Homo sapiens: one gene and its partners. The protein of the gene in region 2 purifies or fractionates together with the protein of the main gene of each other region. This does not show direct contact. Each region holds a gene or a part of one and is shown on either strand. Other genes may lie near its edges.

The links. The genes of interacting proteins can lie anywhere in the genome.
Region 1: the proteins of ZNF462 (region 2) and D2HGDH purify together in Homo sapiens (affinity purification with mass spectrometry; 3 studies listed by BioGRID and IntAct, with this or other methods). This does not show direct contact.
Region 3: the proteins of ZNF462 (region 2) and ZNF644 purify together in Homo sapiens (affinity purification with mass spectrometry; 3 studies listed by BioGRID and IntAct, with this or other methods). This does not show direct contact.

What each region holds. Positions count from the first base shown.
Region 1 is NC_000002.12:241,730,189-241,737,630, reverse strand, and holds the start of D2HGDH (D-2-hydroxyglutarate dehydrogenase, mitochondrial isoform 1 precursor), read right to left. Parts: upstream 3,002-7,442; 5' UTR 2,936-3,001; intron 2,499-2,935; 5' UTR 2,407-2,498; coding exon 2,115-2,406; intron 1-2,114.
Region 2 is NC_000009.12:106,929,150-106,936,175, reverse strand, and holds part of ZNF462 (zinc finger protein 462), read right to left. Parts: coding exon 6,417-7,026; intron 5,652-6,416; coding exon 5,487-5,651; intron 3,914-5,486; coding exon of another isoform or gene 3,731-3,913; coding exon 3,627-3,730; intron 674-3,626; coding exon 555-673; intron 1-554. UniProt on the Homo sapiens protein: Zinc finger nuclear factor involved in transcription by regulating chromatin structure and organization. Involved in the pluripotency and differentiation of embryonic stem cells by regulating SOX2, POU5F1/OCT4, and NANOG.
Region 3 is NC_000001.11:91,012,035-91,019,060, forward strand, and holds part of ZNF644 (zinc finger protein 644), read right to left. Parts: intron 1-7,026.

The sequences.
Region 1 (7,442 bases), on a different chromosome or scaffold from region 2:
GTAGTCCCAGCTACTCAGGAGGCTGAGACAGGAAAATCGCTTGACCCCAGGAAGTGGAGGTTGCAGTAAGGGGAGATCGTGCCACTGCACTCCACCCTGAGTGACAGGGCAAGACTCCATCTCAAAAAAATAAAAAAAGAGAAAACTGGGCACTGTTACCAAAAGGAAGTGCCAGCCCCAGAGGCTGAGAAGTCCCTCATTCGTGCACAGACTTGTATGCCACTGGGCAGAAGTGCAGTGGGAGGAGAGGAGCAGGCATTGTTGGCCAGGAGCCCTGCATCTTACCTAATGGGCTCCAAAAAGATACGTCTGCTTCCCAATGCCCCAAGACCTGTGAATGGGACCTTATTTGAAAAAATGGGGCTGGGCATGGTGGCTCATGCCTGTAATCCCAGCACTTTGGGAGGCCGAGGCAGGCGGATCACGATGTCAGGAGATTGAGACCATCCTGGCTAACACGATAAAACCCTGTCTCTACTAAAAATACAAAAAGAATGAGCCGGGCGTGGTGGCGGGCGCCTGTAGTCCCAGCTACTCGGGAGGCGGAGGCAGGAGAATGGCGTGAAGCCAGGAGGCGGAGCTTGCAGTAAGCCGAGATCACGCCACTGCACTCCAGCCTGGGCAACAGAGCGAGACTCCGTCTCAAAAAAACAAAAAGAAAAAACGGTCCAGCTAAGTGCAGTGGCTCATGCCTGTCATCTCAGCACTTTGGGAGGCCAATGTGAGTGGATCACCCGAAGTCAGGAGTTCGAGACCAGCGTGGTCAACATGGTGAAACCCCGTCTCTACTAAAAATACAAAAATTAGCCGGGCATGGTGGCGGGCACCTGTAATCCCAGTTACTTGGGAGGCTGAATTGCTTACACCCAGGAGGGGAAGGTCGCAGTGAGCCAAGATTGCACCATTGCACTCCAGCCTGGGCAAAAAGAGTGAGACTTCATCTCCAAAAAAAAAAAAAACGGATAAACGGTCTTTGCAGATGTAATTAAGTTGACAGTACTGAGATACGATCATCCTGGATTAGGGTGGGCCCTCAATCCAATGAGAAGTGTCTTTATAAGACAACTGGAGAAGAGTCACAGAGAAGAAAAACCTGTATGAAAAACAGAGGCAGAGACTGGAGTAATTTGGTACCTGGGGCCACCAGGAGCTAGAGCTACAAGAGGCAGGAAGGAGCCTCCTCTGGAGGCTTTGGAGGGAGCGCAGCCCTGTGATACCCTGATTTCACACTTTTGGCCTCCAGAGCTTAGAGAACAAACTTGTGGGGTTTGGTGGGGAGGGGAATTCTGTTTTGTTTTAGAGATGTAGTCTTGCTCTGTTGCCCAGGCTGGAATGCAGTGGTGAGATCATAGTCCACTAAAACTGGAACTCCTGGGCTGGAGTAACTTTTTTACTTTTTGTTTTTTCAATCCTGGGCCGGCTACTTTTATTTATTTATTTTTATTTTTAGAGGTGAGTGGGGCGGGGGTTCTGGCTATGTTGCCCAGGCTGGTCTTGAACTCCTGGCTTCAGCCTCCAGGGCAGCTGAGATTACAGGCAGAGCCACTGCGCCAGGCAAACTTGGGTTGTTGGCAGGGCGGGGTGGCTCACGCCTGTAATCCCAGCAATTTGGGAAGCCGAGGCGGACGGATCACGAGGTCAAGAGATCGAGACCATCCTGGCCAACATGGTGAAACCCTGTCTCTACTAAAAATACAAAAATTAGCGGAACGTGGTGGCGGGCGCCTGTAGTCGCAGCTACTAGGGAGGCTGAGGCAGGCAAATCGCTTGAACCCGGGAGGCAGAGGTGGCAGTGAGCCGACGTCGCGCCACTGCACTCCGGCCTGGCGACAGAGTGAAACTCCGTGACTGCACTCCAGCCTGGCGACAGAGTGAGACTCCGTCTTAAAAAAAAGAAAAAACAAAACAACAACAACAACAAAACTTGGGTTGTTCTAAGCGACTCGTTCGTGGTCATTCATTCCAGCAGCCTGTGGCGGTGCACACGCCCCTCTCAGCGCAGCCAGGGGCTGGCACCCCCATCCAGGTTGTTCTCAGCCCGCTTTGAAGCCTCCACGGGAAGGCGCAGCGGAGCAGGGACGCGGAAACGCCGCAGCTTCCCAAGCCTCACCCACCTCGCAGCGTCCGCAACCAGTCCACGTTGGGAGCCTGCAGCGCTTCCGGGTCCGTGACGACCCCGCCGGGCACGATGCGCTCAAAGGCGGCCAGGTCCTGCTTAGACACCGTGGAGAACGGCAAGCGCCGCACGGGGTAGCGCTCCCGGGTCAGCGGCACCTCGGGGGTCCCCGGGGCGGAGCAGCAGCCTCTGCGGGCCAGGGGGCCAACCGGCCGACCCCAAGAACCCGCGGCTCCCGGAGCACCCCGCAACAGCCACGCGGGCCACGCCAGAGGCCGACGGGGCAGCATCGCCGCCGGGACGGAGACCTCGGGCTCCTCCTTGGTGGGGGGCCGGTACTCAGGGCCCGGAGGGGAAGGGCAGGGAGCCGCTGGCTGCGCGCCTGGAAGTGGCCAAGGGTAATTTCATGTTTTATGCACGTTGTACAAATTGAAACACGCTTGCAGAAGCAGGGAGGGGGCAGGAGGGCAGCGAAGGGAAGGCTCCGAGCACCCGGGCCCTCCCCCTGCCCGGGCCGCAACCCCGCGAGCGCGCGAAGCCCCACGCAGCAGGCCTGGACTTAGCGACGCGCAGGCTCGGGGCGGCCTCGCCGGGACCTTGCCCAGGACCCCGTTCCTCCGAGCTCGCCCCCCGAGGGGATCCCGCGGACGCGCGCGCGTGTTCCACGCGGTCACGTGACGAGCTGCAGCGCCGTCCCCCTCCCCCCACAGGCACCGACTGGCTGACGGCGCCCGAGATCGCGCCCCGCCACCCCGACCCGCGGCTGAACCGCAGACCGGGACCCTCAGCCCAGCGCTCCGCGCGGCCGCGCGCACGCACCCACGATCACGTCCCGAGCTCCAACCCGCAGCGCCCGCCGCAGGCCCAGAGCCGCCGAGCCGGAGTGGGCGGGGCGACGCCGCGCCTGCGCATTGACGGCTCCGCCCAGCGGCCGAAGCCCCGCCCCGCGCGCCTAACGGGCCCCGCCCCGCCTGCCCTCCAGGCCCAGCCCTGCGCGCCTACAGTCCCCGCCCCGCCGTCCAAGCCCCGCCCCGACTGGCACCGGAGGCTCGACGGCCACCGCCTCGTCCTGCGTTTCCTGAGGGCCTCCGGCGCGCCGGCTGTCGGGCGCATCCCTCCAGGTAGAGAAGGGACTAGGCTGAGCGCAGCCCAAGACGCCCAAGCAGCAGCTGGAGGGTTCTCCAGAACGAGGCCCGGGACGTGGGCTCGGCCGAGGGACCTGGGGGCCGGCCCGCTCCTCCGAGGCCGAGCCCAGGGGGCGCCCCTTTCCCCAGCGGCCTCCCCAGCTCCTGCACGGACCACCCCTCCTGGGTCCCCAGCCTTAGCTTAGGGGGCAGCTGCCTCCTGCAGGTGTTTTCTTGCCTCCCTGTCCCTTCTGCCTGTTCAGCCCTCCGTGCCCTCAAACCCTTTGCACACCTGGGGAGCTCCTGCCCTCCTGACGCAGTAACTGCTGTCCCGAGGAGCCTCCCGGCCTGGGATCCCCTGCCTGAGGCATCGCCAGCACTTGTTTTGTGTTTTTTTGAGACAGGGTCTAGCTCTGTTGCCCAGGCTGGAGTTCTGGGGTTGATCTCAGCTCACTGCAACCTCTGCCTCCCGAGCTCAAACCATCCTCCCACCTCGGCCACCCAAGTAGCTGGGACTACGGGCGTGCACCACCACACCCGGCTAATTTTTTGTTGTTGTTGTATTTTTGTAGAGATGAGGTCTCATGTGCTGCCCAGGCTGGTCTCGAACTCCTGGACTCAAGCGATCCGCCCGCGTCGGCCTCCCAAAGCACTTGTTACTTCAGCTCACCCAATTCCATAGAACCCTAGCGGGTGCAGAGGATGCCAATCTCTGAGCAGATGAGGGCAGAGAGCAGGAGACCACACTTGGCCCGAGGCAGGACTGCGGAGCTGTGCAAGAGGTGGAGGCTACGCCCGTGACAGCAGATGGGTCCTGGTAGTCACACAGAAAACCGGCGAGCTGGATTTGTCCTGGTGATGAGGCTCTGGAGCAGCAGTTGCAAGGAGTCATTCCTGTCCTCCTTAACCACATCCCCAGAGGCCACTCACCTTCTTCCCAGGTGAATCATTCATACAACCCTGGAAAGGAGACATCCACCTGGCCCTTCCTACCTGGCTGGCCCTTGCTCTGCAGATGAGTGTGGGAGTTTGCCCATTGTCAAGGGTAACTGTTGCAATTACACATTCAGGAACTGGAAAGACGACCACAGATGAGGTCTGTGGACCCCCTTACCACCTGACCTCCACACGCCCTCCCTTTGACTAGCAGGCCAGTGGCATCTTGGACCCCTGGGATTAGGAATGATTCAAAACCCATAAAGATTACCACCCATACCATCCCCTAAAATAACTGATTTTTCTGACCAGGCACGGTGGCTCACGCCCATAATACCAGCACTTTGGGAGGCTGAGGCAGGTGGATCACCTGAGGTCAGGAGTTCGATACCAACTGTGGGCGGCAAGCCACCCAGGTGCCGAGGCAAGAGACCGAAGACACGAGCTGTTCCAGTATAATAAAATAAGAATAGTTATACCAGATATAGATCTTAGATATGATTATATATGAATATCATTAATCATTAGTTGGTAGCAATTACTCTTTATTCCAATATTATAATAATCCTCGCTCTACAATCATAACCTAGGAAAAACCAGGCCATACAGAGATAGGAGCTGAGGGGACATAGTGAGGAGTGACCAGAAGAGTGCGAGCCTTCTGTTATGCCCAGACAGGGCCACCAGAGGGCTCCTTGGTCTAGCGGTGACGCCAGCGTCTGGGAAGACACCCGTTACCTAGCGGACCGTGGTCTAGCGGTAGCGAAAAGTGTCAAGAAACACCACCCGCTACTTAGCAGACCGGAAAAGGGAGTCTCCCTTTCCCCGGGGGAGTTTAGAGACGACTGTACTCCTCCACCTCTTGTGGAGGACCTGACATCAGTCAGGCTCGCCCGCAGTTATCCGGAGGCCTAACCGTCTCCCCGTGATGCTGTGCTTCAGTGGTCACGCTCCTAGTCCGCCTTCATGTTCCATCCTGTACACCTGGCTCTGCCTTCTAGATAGCAGTAGCAAAATTAGTGAAAGTACTAAAAGTCTCTAATAAGCAGAAATAATGGCGTAAGCTGTCTCTCTGTCTCCTCTCTCTCTCTGCCTCGGCTGCCAGGCAGGGAAGGGCCCCTGTCCAGTGGACACGTGACCCACATGACCTTACCTATCATTGGAGATGGCTCACTCTCCTTATCCTGACCCTTTGTCTTGTATCCAATAAATATCAGTGCAGCCTGGCATTCGGGGCCACTACCGGTCTCCGCAACTTAATGGTAGTGGTCCCCCAGGCCCAGCTGCCTTTTCTTTTATCTCTGTCTTGTGTCTTTATTTCTGTACTCTCTCGTCTCCGCACATGGGGAGAGACCCACCGACCCTGTGGGGCTGGTCCCTACACCAACCTGGCCAACATGGTGAAACCCTGTCTCTACCAACAATACAAAAATTAGCTGGGCATGGTGGTCGGTGCCTATAATCCCAGCTACTTGGGAGACTGAGGCAAGAGAATGGCTTGAACCTGGGAGGCAGAGGTTGCAGTAAGCTGAGATCACGCCACTGCACTCCAGCCTGGCGACAGAGTGAGATTCTGTCTCAAAAAAAAAAAAAAAAAACTGTCTCAGAAAATAATAACAACTGATTTTTCTTTTTCCCAGGGCATAGTCACCCTAGCAAAGCCCACATGTACCCTCAGAGAATGCTTGGAGGAAAATACGGCATGTGCTGGTTTCAGCGTTGTGGGGCCCTCACCCAGCATCTCAGCCTCCTCTTCCAGCGAGATGGCAGGTGCTGGTTTCCGCATTGTGAGGCCTTCCCCCAGCATCTCAGCCTCCTCTTCCAGCGAGATGGCAGGTGCTGGTTTCGGCGTTGTGGGGCCTTCCCCCAGCATCTCAGCCTCCTCTTCCAGCGAGGACTCCAGTCTACGGATTGGTTTTCACCTGGACGGTGGGTGAGAGGCCGACTGTACCTCGTGATGACCAAGCTCTTCCCGGGTTCTGTTAATGCACTCCTCAAGGCAACATCTTGAGACCCATCAGCTCCTGTTATGTTTGTGTCCCCCAGAATTCGTATGCAGAAGCTGTAACCCCCAATATGGCCGTATTTGGAGATGGAACTTCTGAAGAAGTAATTAAGGTTAAAGTCAGTCACAAGGGTGGGGTCCTGATCCGACAGGACAGGCATCCGTAAAATAAGAGACACCAGAGAGCTCCCTCTCCCAGTCAGTTTCGTAGGCACACATGAGAAGGCAGTGTTCACAACCCAAGGGAAGAGCCCTGGACAGGCACCAGACAACCCCAGCGCCTTAATCTTGGACTTCCAATCTCCAGAAATATAAGACATTTTTCTTAAGCCTCCCAGTCTGTGGTATTGTGATAACAGCCTGATATGGTTTGGATTTGTGTCCCCGCCCATAATCCCCAATGTTGGGGGAGGGGCCTGGTAGGAGGTGACTGGCTCATGGGCGCAGATTTCCCCTTGCTGTTCTTGTGGAGGTAAGTGAACTCTCAGGAGACCTGCTTGTTTAAAAGTGTGGCACCTTTCCCCTTTGCTCCCTTTCTCTCCTGGTCTGCCGTGGTAAAACGTGCTTGCTTCCCCTCCGCCTTCTGCCATGATGTAAGTTTCCTGAGGCCTCCGCACCACGCTTCCTGTACAGCCTGCAGAACTGTGAGTCAATTAAACCTCATTTCTTTATAAATTACACAGTCTCAGGTCGTTCTTTATAGCAATACAAGAATGGACTAATACAGAGCCTAAGCTGACTCCAGCAGCTTCCAAAAGGCAAGTGCAACACGGTAAGTCTTGCCCTTCCAGAGCAAGCACAGTACTCCTTTAGAAAGCAACTGCAGCGGCCGGGCGTGGTGGCTCACGCCTGTAATCCCAGCACTTTGGGAGGCCGAGGCAGGCGGATCACGAGGTCAGGAGATCGAGACCATCCTGGCTAACACGGTGAAACCCTGTCACTACTAAAAATACAAACAATTAGCCGGGCATGGTGGTGGGCGCCTGTAGTCCCAGCTACTCGGGACACAGGCAGGAGAATGGCGTGAACCTGGGAGGCGGAGCTTGCAGTGAGCAGAGATTGCACCACTGCACTCCAGCCTGGGCAACAGAGTGAGACTCCGTCTCAAACAAAAAAAAAAGAAAGCAACTGCAGCATTCTCACACGTCTTCCTTGGAAGTCAACTTGAGCCCCAGCACTGGCCACTGAGCTTCCTGAGCAACCACCCAAGGTAAGGCACAGGGTCCTCCCCAGACCCCCAGCCAGCAAGCTCCGCAAACCA
Region 2 (7,026 bases):
CCAATTTTTTCTAATGAGTAATGAGATGGAACAACAATATGATAGAGACCAGCACAGCTGCTGGACACTCACAACCCAAAGTCATTTCTGTCTTATGTACGGAAACATATCTAAGGGTATCTCTTGAAAAATCTCACACATCTTGAGTTCCCTTTGCCCTTTCTAACTTCCTTAAGTTGGTAACTTTATTTTAGCTGGAAAGTCTTTTTAATAGATATAACAATTCTTGGCAATTGAATTAGAAAGTATAGGCAGTTTAGAAATTTCTGTAAAAATCACCAACAGTCTAATTCTAACTTGTCAGTAGGACGAACGAACTAACCATAACATGGGTGACATAGGCTTTGTATTATTTTGGATTTAGGTGATTTTGTTTAACTTTTACTTTTTTCTTTATTTTTTCTTTACTAGGTAAAAATAAAACTGAATATACATCCATCCCAAGAATAACATTCTCAAGTGTAAGGCAGGACAGTATTTCACTCAATAAAGATCATCAGGTTTCAAACTCAGAGAGTGCTAAAGAACTTGTGCATCATCAATGCACAACTCACCAGCATGAGCTTTGAGTATATGTGTTTTCAGCCGGCTGTTATAGGAGGACTTGAAGGAGCAGAGTTTGCATCGGAATGGTTTATGGTGTCCGTGGTGGGTTTGCATATGGCGATCCAAACTTGATGTAGAAGGAAAACAAAAAGAAAAATGACAAAATTAAAAATTGCATAGAGGATTTGCTCATTGCTTTTTTTCCAGGAATCCTACTTCTAGGTCGTTCAAAGTCCTTTTGTTTACTTTCCAATAATGGCATTTATCAATTTAATTAATTAATTTTCAAGAGTTGTACCTACTCTAAGAGGACAGGAAGCTAAAGGAAGAGATCAAGAGTTTTTTTTGGATTTAGAGATATGGCAGTGGTAACAGGTCATGGTAAGAATCTTTATTGTCCCTTCTTAGAGCTCTGATCATTGGAAGAGTGTATCTAAAGAGAAGGTACAATATGGGTGAATTCAAGCTTCCTGCCAAGCCAGTGAGAGTGCCTATCAATTAGTCCTCTAACTTATTCAAATAACAGAATGGGAATTAGAGAAATTTAGCATTTGAAAAGAGCTGACTTTCTTTTTGAATTCTAATTCTACTTTCATTGTGAACACTAGAGTGAGGAAGGGAGGTTTCGAAGTGGCTGACCTTCTTGCAATGGGCTGTCTTGTTGCCAGGGTCTATATTAATATGGAGGCACAGTGCATGCATGTTTAAAGGAGCCACGTGGTCAAAAGGCCGCACATCCCTTCTGATACACACAACCATGTTTGCTGTAAGTCTTCCAGAAGCAATTTACAAGGGAGTTATTTAATTACAACGAACCCCTAGTACTTCATAATAATTATTAGCCTAAAAAAATAATAAATCTACCAAACAAGGTGTGGGAAGTTCTAATTTGTATCAGCACTCCAGAGAACTAAATTCCCTTCTAAATGCCTCATGTGGGAACGGTACTGCTTACCATTTCAACATATAATGCTGTCCTGAGCTCCAAAGCAACATTTTCAATTGCCCCTGGACAGCTCCCTCTGGGTGTCCTTTAGTTCTCTTTAACTCAACCTGTTCTAAACAAACCCATCAGAGAGTTTTCTACAAAACAAATTCTCTTCTTCATTTCCTTGTTTCTATAAATGGCACTAACCTTTCTTCCAGATGAGTAAACTGAAAACCTAGTTGCCATTTGTATTTTACTTTGTCCCTCATCCCACGCATGAAGTCAATTTTTCCAAGTCAGGCAAATCCATTCCTTCAATCATTCCCTAACTTCTTGAACTAGCTACTATTATTGCTTCTTAATTCCTTGTCCCCCAGCCCCCATGGATTTTTTTTTTTTTTTTTTCATCTCAAGAGCACACGCTATGGAGTCAGACTACCTGGGATAAAATCTCAGCCATTACATATAGGCTGTGTGTCCTTGGGCAAATTACTTAATTTTTCTAGGCTTTACTCTTCTTATTCATAAGATGATAATAATGGGGCCATACCTTATAGGAGAGTTTTGAGAATGAAATTAAGTAATATTTAAAGGCCCTTAGTACAGTGCCTGGTATATAGTGAGATGCAATAAATGTTAGCAATTATAATTATTTTGCTAATTTGACTCTTCCTTTTACCAGCAATTTAAATTATGAAATACTATTTCCTGGCATTTAAAACTCCAAATATGGTCTCCTTTAAAGTATTTAGACCTTATCTTTCACTATTCCTTTACATGTAACTTAAGGATTAGTCAAACTGAACCCCCAGCTAGGGCCCCAGTCAGCTTCATGGTCTCCTCCCTCAGCTTTTCCTCTACATCATATGTCCTTTCCAAACTATTCAAGTCCTATTTTCCTACTTTAAGACTTCACCCAAATGCTCCTTATGCCATAAAACCTTCCTGACTCTTCCAAAGCTGATGTAACATTTCTCTTCTTTGACACATCATAGTATTTTACTGATATTTTCAAAGACGTGCTTTATTTTGATGAGTCAGTGGGTTTTGTTTTGTTTTTTTTTAATTTCATAAACCAACCCTTGACCCTAAATTCCCCTGGCCACAGACCATGGCCTGTGTCTTTATATTTCCCAAAAGTACAGTACCTAGGACAGGATATATTCATTTATTCACAATTATTTAAAGTTCCACTGTGCGTCAGACAATGTGATAGATGCTGTTCAATAAATACTTCTTGAATTGAAGTATTTCAAGTTTTATGCCAATGTATGGATCTGATGACAAAGATTAGATATTAGGCTCTGTATAATAATAAAGTGTTTACAACCCATCCTAACCTCTGTGAAAACACCACCTCCTTCTTCTGTTCAACAACCACTAACTGGCCCTTTATCTTTTGTAAGAAGCAAATAGTCCATCATTTATTTCATTAAAAAAATTGTTTTAAAAAGCATGTCAGTCTTAGTCACCTTTATCCAAGACTGTCCAAACGCATTATTGAATATTTATCTCTCTTTTACACGGCTGAAAGAGAAAGGCAACAAAAAGTTGTTCTTAAAACCACCCCTCTTTCCATGGCCCCAAAAAGCCTTACACACCTATTCCATATTTACACTTTCAAAGCTGTGATGAGTAATGGGAAGCTCCCTCTCCTCAATCTCCCTGTATGTCAAGCAACTCTTTGGCATCCATGAACTTCTTTACCTTTCAAGATCTTTTGAAAAATTGCAAGCAATGTTTCTTTGGTCACATGGGTTAATAGTCCTAATTTTACCTCTTTAGCAACTCAGTTTTCTAAATGGACTTTACTTCCTCAAACAATGACTAGATTTTGGCTGAATGTTTGAACGATGAATCAGGAGACTCATCTACTCTCCACAGATGCCATTTTACCTTTGGGTAAATCATAGCAATTCCTCCAATTCTCATTTTTAAAATGCCTGCATTTGCCAAATCTAACGCCATCCGATCAATCTCCTGTTCTCAGCCCCATTTTACAGAAAAGGTGACTGAGGCTCCAGGTAACATAGCAGCAGGTGTGAACCATGAGTGGGGCCTTCTTACTCATCCAAGCTTCTGCTTTAGCTTAGTGCCTTCCACTATGACATCATCTCCCAGTAACCACTAGTGACCCCCCAATAGCACTTACTTGTGCCTGAAAGCAGAAACAAACGAGCAATACTGGCAGCTGTACTTGTCCTCGCGGGTAAACATGGCCAGGGCCAGGTGGCTCCTCTCATGAGAACGCAGCCCCTGCATGGACATCAGGACTCTGTCACATTGACTGCAATGGTATCCCCCCGGCCGGGTTTCATCCTCCAACATTCCATCAAGCAAGCAGTGTTCACCATCCACCCGGCCCACCAGGGCGCCACTGGCGTCTTTGGCTGCTTCCAATCCATCCAGGAACAAGTGGGCAGGGTCATCCGCCTCCTGCTAAGAGAACCACACACACACACATGCCCCACCAACAAAATAAATATCCATCATCATTGCCTCCAGCTTTCTTTTTCTCCCTACATTCTCCCAAACTCAACAGCACTTCTTGTCAAAGCTTCCTCCCCTGCCTCTCCAGCTACCCCTAGAGGGAGAGCAAGCCCAACTGCCATTCTTCATGCAGTGGAGGTGATTTTAGGACAACATACCCGGACACAGGTTGCTACTGTTTGCGAAATGTGAACAAGGGCTTCTCCCACTCTGAAGACACTTCACTCACTTCTTCCCCATCTTAAAAGAAAATTCAAACTGCAACCCCATCTAAGTTGACATAAAGTTGGGCTAGGGTTGTGGCTCACAGAAAGGAGAGGAAGAAAGGAAGAGAAAGAAAAGCAAAGTAGTATGGTCATTGAGGAGCCTTGGGCCATTATCTGGAAAGGAAGCAAAGCAAAAGATCCCGCTGTCTGCCCCCTACCCTGTAGATGGTGACTTCACTCTATGACTGGAGACTGCTGCATAATCAATTCAAAAAATTAAGGAGCAGCCTAGTTTTAAGTCACCTGTTTTTCGAGATAGCTCCTTGGGTTACTGATTACACAGGAAAAGCCCTTCTGTCTCTCTCACATGATCCCAGGAAACGAGCCTGGGACACACCGCAGTGGTGTCTGAAAGAAAGTGACTGCTGATATCCCTGGGTTGCCACTGTTCTGCCAAAAGACAGAAAGCTTCAGTCTTCAGTGAAGAAAAGTAGAGACTTTATCTTCATGTTAAATTGGCAAAATAGGATGTAAGCTCAAGAAGGGCAGATGACAAAAATATGTTCGCGTGTACCCTTAGAGAAAGGGCAGAACCCCAAAATGACTTCTGTTTTAATAAATAATAGGGCTTAGCAATATCCTGGAAGACGGGGATGGTGGCTTGGTTACTGACATGGTGGCTGCTATTAGGATTATGATGTTCAAAACAGGTGGCCTAATAAAAGTCAGAGGGAAAAGGGAAGACACTTGTCAGCATCATATGGGAGAGGGGATGGAGGAGACAAACCAAGGCTTTCAGGGTCAATTGCGACTTGAACGCTTTTAGTTTTAATGTCTCTTGCAGTCCCCAGAGGACCCAGGATAAGAAGACAAAGAGATTCTCCTAGGCTCTCTGCATCCTCAGCCAGATGAGAACAGTAAGAAGTCAGGAAGAAAGAGGAGCAGAAGATGATGGGAACAGAACCCACTTGATTCCTCTCAAGAGCTCGGGCAACTTGGAAGAACGAAGAGCTAATGGCACTAAACGCAGAATAGAAGGACGACCCGAAGCCTCCTAGACCGAGAATCCTGGACCTTCTGCTGCCACCAAACTATCCGCGTGGAAGGAAACCAGATCGAAACTCGACCTTTCCCTGAACAGAAAGATGAGGAAGGTCCAACCTGCAAAGAAATCAAAACAAGCCAAACCAATCCAAGCATAATTCAGGAATGCCCGCATTCTGAGATGCTCTTTCCTGAGCTGCTTTAGGCAATGGGGTTAATAAGTAACTCGAATCGCTCACACACAATGCTCATCCAGACCTTCCAGTTCTCACCTTCACAGCAGCTGACACAGCTGGGACATTGCCATACTGGACGTGCTTTCGGAGGTGATTGCAGATGGCTCGGAGCGTTGGGTGCACTTCCACACAGAATTTACATTTGTAGCCCACCACTTTCCTCTCCTTGATCTTTGGCACCTCTTCTAAGTGACCAAAAGGCTGGTAAAATACAGTGGTAGCCATCAGTACTCCGAGCCCTCCCTCAATTGTCAGAATTTATTCTTGCAGTTTACTAACATACTTTATTTTAAAGCCGATTAGCAGGTTAAAAACCAAGGGAGATATAGGCGAGTATTTTTATATAACAAATTTGTCAGCATCATGGCACGCTGCCTACTATGCAAAGTCTTTGAAACCCAAATACATTACGGCTTGTGAGTAGAGAAGATTTCTGTGCAGAAGCTCATCGTCACTGCCACTAAGTCATCTGGTTTTCAAACCAGTTTCAACTAGGCAGGTGAAACGTTGCATAGTTGCGCCATTAATGAACTTCTTGATAAAATAAAATCTACTCCTGGAGACGTTAGGTTCATGTAGCAAACACTGAAGACCAAGACATGGCTGAGAAGTGCTAATGGTACCAAGAGACAGCCCACACTGCCTTAGGAAAGAGCGAGCGTTGTTGTAAAACTAGGCTTCAGATAAAGCTACTTGGCAGAAAGACATACATAGAAACCACCCCAAACCTCCCCTGGGGAGCCATGGGAGGAGTCAAAGGGAAGGAGGGAGGAGAAGGGACCAAGGAGAGGGGTGAGCACAGAATGGGAGATAATCAAGCTCGAAATGTTTAATTGACTTATTGAGCTCTCTGGCAAGCTAAGTCACTAGGAAGCCTGCAGCAGTTTGGCTGGCAACGAAGAAGTGCATGTGGGCACCAGTGATGAGAGGCCTCCTGGGGGAAGGGAAATCAAAACATATCCTTACCCTCTCTTGTTTGAAATCTGCAAAAGCACCATCTGCATATTTCTGCTTGCTCAAAAGCTGTTTCCTCCTCTCCTGACGTTTGGCACGCTTCTGGAATTCCTCATTGTGAATGTTCAAGTGTGAGGTCAGCTCGGCTGTGCTTTGCAGTTTGCTATCACAGTGCTTACACTGGTAGGTGGAGTTCTGCAAGCGGGGGCCGTTGCCCAGAATGATGAAGTCCCTCTTTAGGTCCCGACTGTGGTGGTCAGTGTAATGCATGCACAGCAGCTCTGCAGTGCTAAAGGACAGCTTGAAGCATTTGATGCAGCGGAATGGGAGCCACTCGATTTCCTGAGCTTCACCCTCCACCTCGGCTTTCTCAAAGTTGCCTCTCTCCTCTTCTTCCATCAGTGTGGGCTTCTCATGCTCATCTGCATAGACGGCCGTGAAGTAGCCCCCCAACTTGCTGGCGTGCTGCTTCTTTGGGAACACCCCTGGGTGGCGTTTCATGTAATGGGACACGATGCCCTTCTTGCTGAACGACTGGAAAGAGCACAAGGAGCACTTTTTCTTCTCCACTGCCCGCCGGAGTTCCTCGCTCAGCTGAGGGGAGTCGTCCTTGGGCGGGGAT
Region 3 (7,026 bases), on a different chromosome or scaffold from region 2:
CAAGTCATAAAACTAACCTCTAAAGGATTACTATTAATGAACACTAAGAAGCACCTCTCTGATTTTGTCACTGGGGGGAAAAAAGGGCCATAGTACCAAATATCACCTGATTTACCTCCCAATTCATAACAATGCCAAACAAGGACAGAAGAAAAGAGAGATGGATTCAAGCATCAATTCTCACTACCCTTGGGAGGGAGGACAAATATGCCATAAGAAGTTTAGAAACAAAAACTCCAGCCCGGGCAACATGGTAAAACCCTATCTCTACTACCGAAAGAAAAAAAAAAAAAATCAGCCAGGCATGATGGCATGCACCTGTAGTTCCAGGTACTCAGGAAGCTGAAGGAGGAGGATCGCTTGAGCCTGGGAGGTGAAGGCTGCAGTGAGCTGAGATTGCGCCAATGCACTCCAGCTAGGGTGACAGACTGAGACCCTGTCTCAAAAGAAAAAAAAAGGAAGGAAAAGAAAAAGAAACAAGCAAAAACTAATTTATGGTGATAGAGGTTAGAGGTTAAAATAGTGGTTACTTCTGTAGGGAGAAATTAATAGGAGGGAGCACAAGGCACCTTTAATCAGTGAAGAAAAATATTCTACATCTCTATCTGGGTATTTCATTTAAAATAGGCTCTAATCACGGAAAATGCTTGCATTCCACAATTCTCATGTCTGTGCTTTTTTTACATCCTCTTCTCCCCAGGTGTAACCCAGTACCTCCCACTACCTGGGAGTTACCTAGGTATACTTATATGTATAAATTCACTGAGTTGTACTTAAGATTTGTGCACTTCACTGTATGTTATACCTAAAAAAAATACTTAAAAACAAGTAACCAATTAATAGCTAAATCTAAAAACCTTTTCTCAATTCTCATCCTTCTTTATCAATCTCCATCATATTGTTAATCACAGAACATCAATATTCCCTAAATGAAACACTTTCCCTTTTGAAGATCGACTAGGCTTTGTTAGGATGTTTTTTCCAGCATTTTCTGTAGTGTCATATTAATTCTCTCTAAATATTAATTCAATATTTATCTTTTTTCTTTTGTTTTTTGGAGACTGAGTCTCACTCTGTCGCCCAGGTGGGGATGCAGTGGCATGATCTTGGCTTACTGCAACCTCCGCCTCTCATGTTTAAGCAATTCTCCCGCCTCAGCCTCCCAAGTAGGTGGCATTATAGGTGCACACCACCATGCCCAGCTAATTTTTGTATTTTCAGTAGAGACGGGATATTTCATCATATTGGCCAAGCTGGTCTCAAACTCCTGACCTCAGGCGATCTGCCGACCTCAGCCTCCCATAGTGCTGGGACTACAGGCATGAGCCAATGCACCCAGTTAATTCAGTATTTATCAAGTGCTCATGTATGAGACACGAATTAGGCACCCTCCAATATATATTTCCAATCTCTCTCTCACACACACACACACACACACACACACACACATACACACACACACACACATATACACACCCAAACCAAATTCCCTAAACTGGATTCAAGCCACTCTATTACCTGGTATCAAACTGTATTTGCTGTTTTAATTCCTATCACTTCTTTATGGGAATATTCTTCTCAAGCATTTTCTGTTCTCAGCTATCCTTTACGGTTCAGTTCAATTTCTATGTTATTCTTTCCCTATACCCCATAGGACTTACTATCTGTAATTGCACTGTCCAATACAGTAACTTCATGTGGCTACTGAATACCTGAACTCTGGCTAGTCTGAATTGAGATGTGCTTTAAGTATGTAATACTAACAGATTTTGAAGACTTAACATGGTTAAAAAAAGAAAAAATGTAAAATAGTTCAATCATGTTTATATGATGAAATAATAGTATTTAGATACTGGGTTAAATAAAAATCCATTAATAAAATTTCACCTATTTATTTTATTTTTTGATGTGGCTATAGAAAATCTAAAATTGCATTTGTGGCTCAACTTATATTTCTATTGGGCAGTGCTGACCTATACAATCTATTTATAAATGCCCACAAATTACCTTTTTCTTCTTCTTCTTCTTAAACTGATAAATACAAATTGTATATATTTATGGTGTACAACACATTTTGAAATACATATAAATTATGCAATGGTTAAATCTAGCTAATTAACACATGCATTACCTCACATAGTTATATTTTGTGGTGTGAACACTTAAAATGTACTCTCCTAGCAACTTTCAAGTATGCAATATTAACTATAGTTACTATGCCCCACAAATTATCTCTTAACATATAATGTCATCTTCCCGATGAGTGCCAGAATTCAACATTAAGCTTTTTTCTTTTATGAATTAAATATTATATTAGGAATTACTAATAGTAATTAAGTGCCATTTAATTTTAATATCCCTTTAAGATTTTTAACAAGGAAGTGTAAGGCATTTCAAAGTGTTCAAATATTAAAAAAAAGTTGTTTTCAGATAGCTATAAATTATACAATTTTTCATCTATATTTTACTTATATACAATTCTAAGTCAAATGTCCCACCAGCAAGGATAGATAGCATGATTAAACCTGTAGCAATCCAAATCCCATAAAGTATTAGTTCTGATTAAGCCTGATTTTTTTCATCTTAGTCACTCAGTAAAGGGCAGCATCCATTTTGGTCAACATCATTGTACCAATGTCCAGCAGCCAAGACAAAGAGCCTTTATATGGTGGTATGAATAGACAATGAGAGCAATACGACACCACTTGAAATAAGGGGGGGGAGAAAAATGTTTTTATAATGCTAAGTTTTAAAACTAGGAGATGAAACTTACAAATTGTGTAACAACTAGGTAAAAGGATATATATGTAAGAAGAACAGGAAGGTAGAACAGAAAGGTCTCCTCTCTAGACCTTCTCAAGATATACCTAGGTTCAAACTTGGCTACTCCATTATTAAGTGGATGTGTTTCCTCACATGTAAAGTGGGAATATATACATCACAGGATTATTAAAAGAATATAGTAGATGCTTAATTAACGTCATCTGTCTTTAATACTAATAATTATATAATGGTAATAAGATTATGGGTGACTTCCCCTCCCTCACTTTCCAAATTGCTGTATTTTTCAAGCATAAATGAAAAACTTACAATTTCATACTAGTACCCCTCCTCAAATGAACCTAAAATTATTTTTACTAGCTGTCTTTGACAAATTTGCTTATAAGCTTAAAATCCGTGTTTGTGCTAGGAGGAGGTTGGTGGTAGAAAGAAAATTAAAGAGGGGGAACTGATAACTTTAACACCATACCAGCACAGACATATACAAAACAAAGTGTGGAGAGGAAAAGAGCAAAAGGAAATGCTGTTTGGGAAATTCCCAACTCAGACTATCCAATGAAAAGATTATATTCCACCCGCCTCAATCTAGCTACCTACCAGCCACTCCTCACTCTCATCTTGGGTTTATACGTACATTACAAATACGCATAGCCACTCACCTTCTTCTCTCTACTAATAGTCACCACATGGCCTCACAGTCAAAAATTGAAAGGAGAGTGAAGAAATTCAGCATGTTATAACAAAGACAAACCAATGCACTGGCTGGGAAATAACTTCATTAAAATGTACTCATTCCCAAGTGTATCTACTCATCTGCTGACAGTGCTGGGAATGCATTCCTGAAATATTTAACCTGGTTATAAGATTCTGCTGCTAGAATCAGAGAAGGCACACTTTGATGCCTACCTCTCACTTCCTCTATAACAACCTTGTCTTTATCGGCATGGCTTAAAATGGGACATTAGCAAAAGTATACAACTGCAAATCACTCACAGGTGAAAATCTCAAGTTAATGTAGAAAGAATAATTAAACAATGGTAATAATAACTATTATTACTCTAACAGGTAACACTTACTTTACTCAGCATTGTATGCCAGAAAGCTAAGGACTTTACATGAATTATGTAATATCAACCCTAAACCTCTTTGAAGATGGTAATTACTAATTCCACTTGCCTAGTGCTCACACAGCTAAATCTGAACCCTGTCAATTTTACTTCAAGGCTTACACTTTCAAACTTTATCATATCCTGCCTCTTTATATATGCATAATTACAATTGCAATTGTGATTCTATGTGTGTGTGTGTCTGTGTGTAAAGTATTTAGTGAGTCAGTAGCAAACAAAAGGCAATTAATTCCAACTCTGTGAAGCCTTTTACCCACCTTCACAAACCAACAATAAATTGGGAATTACCCCTCTCCTCCCCAATAAATGGTGCTCTGAAAGTACTAGTTTTACAGTCATACATCACTTAAGCATGGATGTACATTCTGAGAGATGCATTCTTAGGCAATTTGGTCACTGTGCAAACATCACAAAGTGTACTCAAACAAACCTAGATGGTAGAGCCTACTTACACACCTAGGCTACTTGGTATAGCCTATTGTTCCTAGGCTACAACATGCTCCTGTAAAGCATGTTATTGTACTGAATACCACACACAACTGTAACATAACTGTTTAGTATTTGTGTATCTAAACATAGAACATAAAATACAGTAAAAATACAGTATTACAATCTTATGGGACCACCATCGTAAATGCAGTCCACTATTGACCAAAGAACATCATTATGCTGCACATGACTGTATTTAATATCTTCCTCAAGAAACTAATGAAAGAGATACTTTTAAGTAAAATATTAATCTTTTCAAAAAATTAGATAAAATAATTGATAGACTACAGGTAAACATGCTTTGTAAAGTGTAAAGAATTTTAATCAACACTTTATTAGGTATTTTTAATTTTCAGTTGTCTATTTGGCTCAAAATATACTTACGTTTCTAGAGTTTGAACAAAGTCTTTTTTATTTGAGACAGGGTCTCACTCTGTCACCCAGGCTAGAGTGCAGTGGCACGGCATCTCTGCTCACTGAAGCCTCTGCCTCCTGGGTTCAAGTGATTCTCCTGCCTCGGCCTCCCAAGTAGCTGGGACTACAGGCACGTGCCACCATGCCCAGCTAATTTTTGTATTTTTGGTAGAGACAGGGTTTCATCATGTTGACCAGGCTGGTCTCAAACTCCTGACCTCAAGTGATCCACCCACCTTGGCCTCCCAAAGTGCTGGGATTACAGGTGTGAGCCTCCACACCCGGCCTATATAAAGTATTTTAAAAGCTGTATTTTCAACTTAAAAAAAAGATACACATACCAAAAGGCTTAACACATAAAATCTGCCTTCATCACTCTAACCCAGCTTCAATTCTACCAAAATCTAGGCTAACAGAATTAAGCTTCAAGGAACAAATCATTTATCTTTATTTTTACTTACAAAATCTCAGTTCAAAGGATTCCAAATGAAATGGGAAGACCACAGCTAGCAGACAGAAGAGGTAGGGCCAAGATTAGTAGGAGAGGGGAAAGAAAATCTCCCAGAAACGCTAATCTTAATCCAGTCTCACTTTCTCCCAACCAAGAGAAGTGTGCACTGCTGCTACTTCTGCCCTGGCAGGCTCCTCCTCCTCTTACTCTTGAAATCCTCTGCTTTTTTCCTCCTGGAAAGTTACTCTCACAGGGCTGTTTTTCTTCCTAACATCTCTCAATTGTCAAAGGATTTCTTATCTTGAAATTAAAAGAATAAAAATATACTAACTTTCCATAATCACATAAGAGTTCCCAGGAAGTTCAAAAAGGATAGTAACTACTGCCAGGTGCGGTGGCTCACGCCTGTAATCCCAGCACTTTGGGAGGCCAAGGCGGGTGAATCACCTGAGGTCAGGAGTTCGAGACCAGCCTGGCCAACATGATGAAACCCCATCTCTACTAAAAATACAAACATTAGCCAGGTGTGGTGGCCGGCGCCCGTAATCCCAGCTACTTGAGAGGCTGAGACAGGAGAATCACTTGAACCTGAGAGGCAGAGGTTGCAGTGAGCCAAGATTGCACCACTGCACCCGCGCCTGGGAAACAGACCGAGACTCCGTCCCCCAACCAAAAAGAAAGAAAAAGAAAGGATAGTAACTCCATGGTTCAACTTGGCAGATCTGCAAAAAAAATTATAATGCAGCAACTAAGGCCTTAGAGACAAGAAAACACCTTTTTCATGGGAACTTCCTCTCCCTGAAGAAAGACAGAATTTAATTTAGAGTCTTACTACCCTCTGGGTCTCCTGTGATCTTCATGTTTGTTTCTTAAGGGGAAGAGGAGAAATCTTTTAGCCAACCAGCAGGGTGAGCTAGTGCTAGCATCAGTTCCATGATTCTCAAATCTCCCAAAACTCAATGGTGTAAACGGCTTGCACTATTAACAGCAGCTATTTATTTCCCTCTAATAAACCTGAATCAAAAACACCACTTCTAGAACTGCTTCAGTCAATGCTATACCTGACAACTTTACTCAATATTTACAGATTCTCCATATACGAAATAGACATTCTCTCTACCAGAAAGATTAATAAGTGTAAATAAAAGCTCATTTGAATATGTATCCATAGTATTACAGTATCCACTCTTCATTCTCGTTTTATTTTACAAGGTTACTAATTTAAAACATTTAGAAAACAGTTTAAAAAATGGTTAAAACAAGTGCTCTATAAAATCAGGGTTAGATAACTCAACATGCCAATTTCTCCATTTGCTGCAAGCTACAATTGTCTTAAGACCTGACTGAAAAGCCTTCCCAAGAATAAGATTCACTTTTCCTTCCAGAATCACATCCTGAGAAAATGGTCTAAATAAGTAACACTAAAAAACAATATTTAGGATGACAGAAAAAAAATGGACCTGACCTTTCTCTAGATTGCAGATATCCCACCACTTCTATTCTCTTTGAAACTTTCTTTTCTCCTCCTGCTACCCATTAACAGTCTCAATTCAACCAAAACACTCTTATAACTTGAATGACAAACTAAAACTGGAAAATGTTTAAGGTTGGCAGGTGACAGACCACTTTATAACTACAAATAACCTGAAAGTGACTCTAATTTTCACAAAATGAAAGTGTAAGTAAATCCACTCACATAATGTTGAAAATTATAAAACAGCTTATCAACTAACAAAAATCAGTAATTTAAAAGCACCTTATATG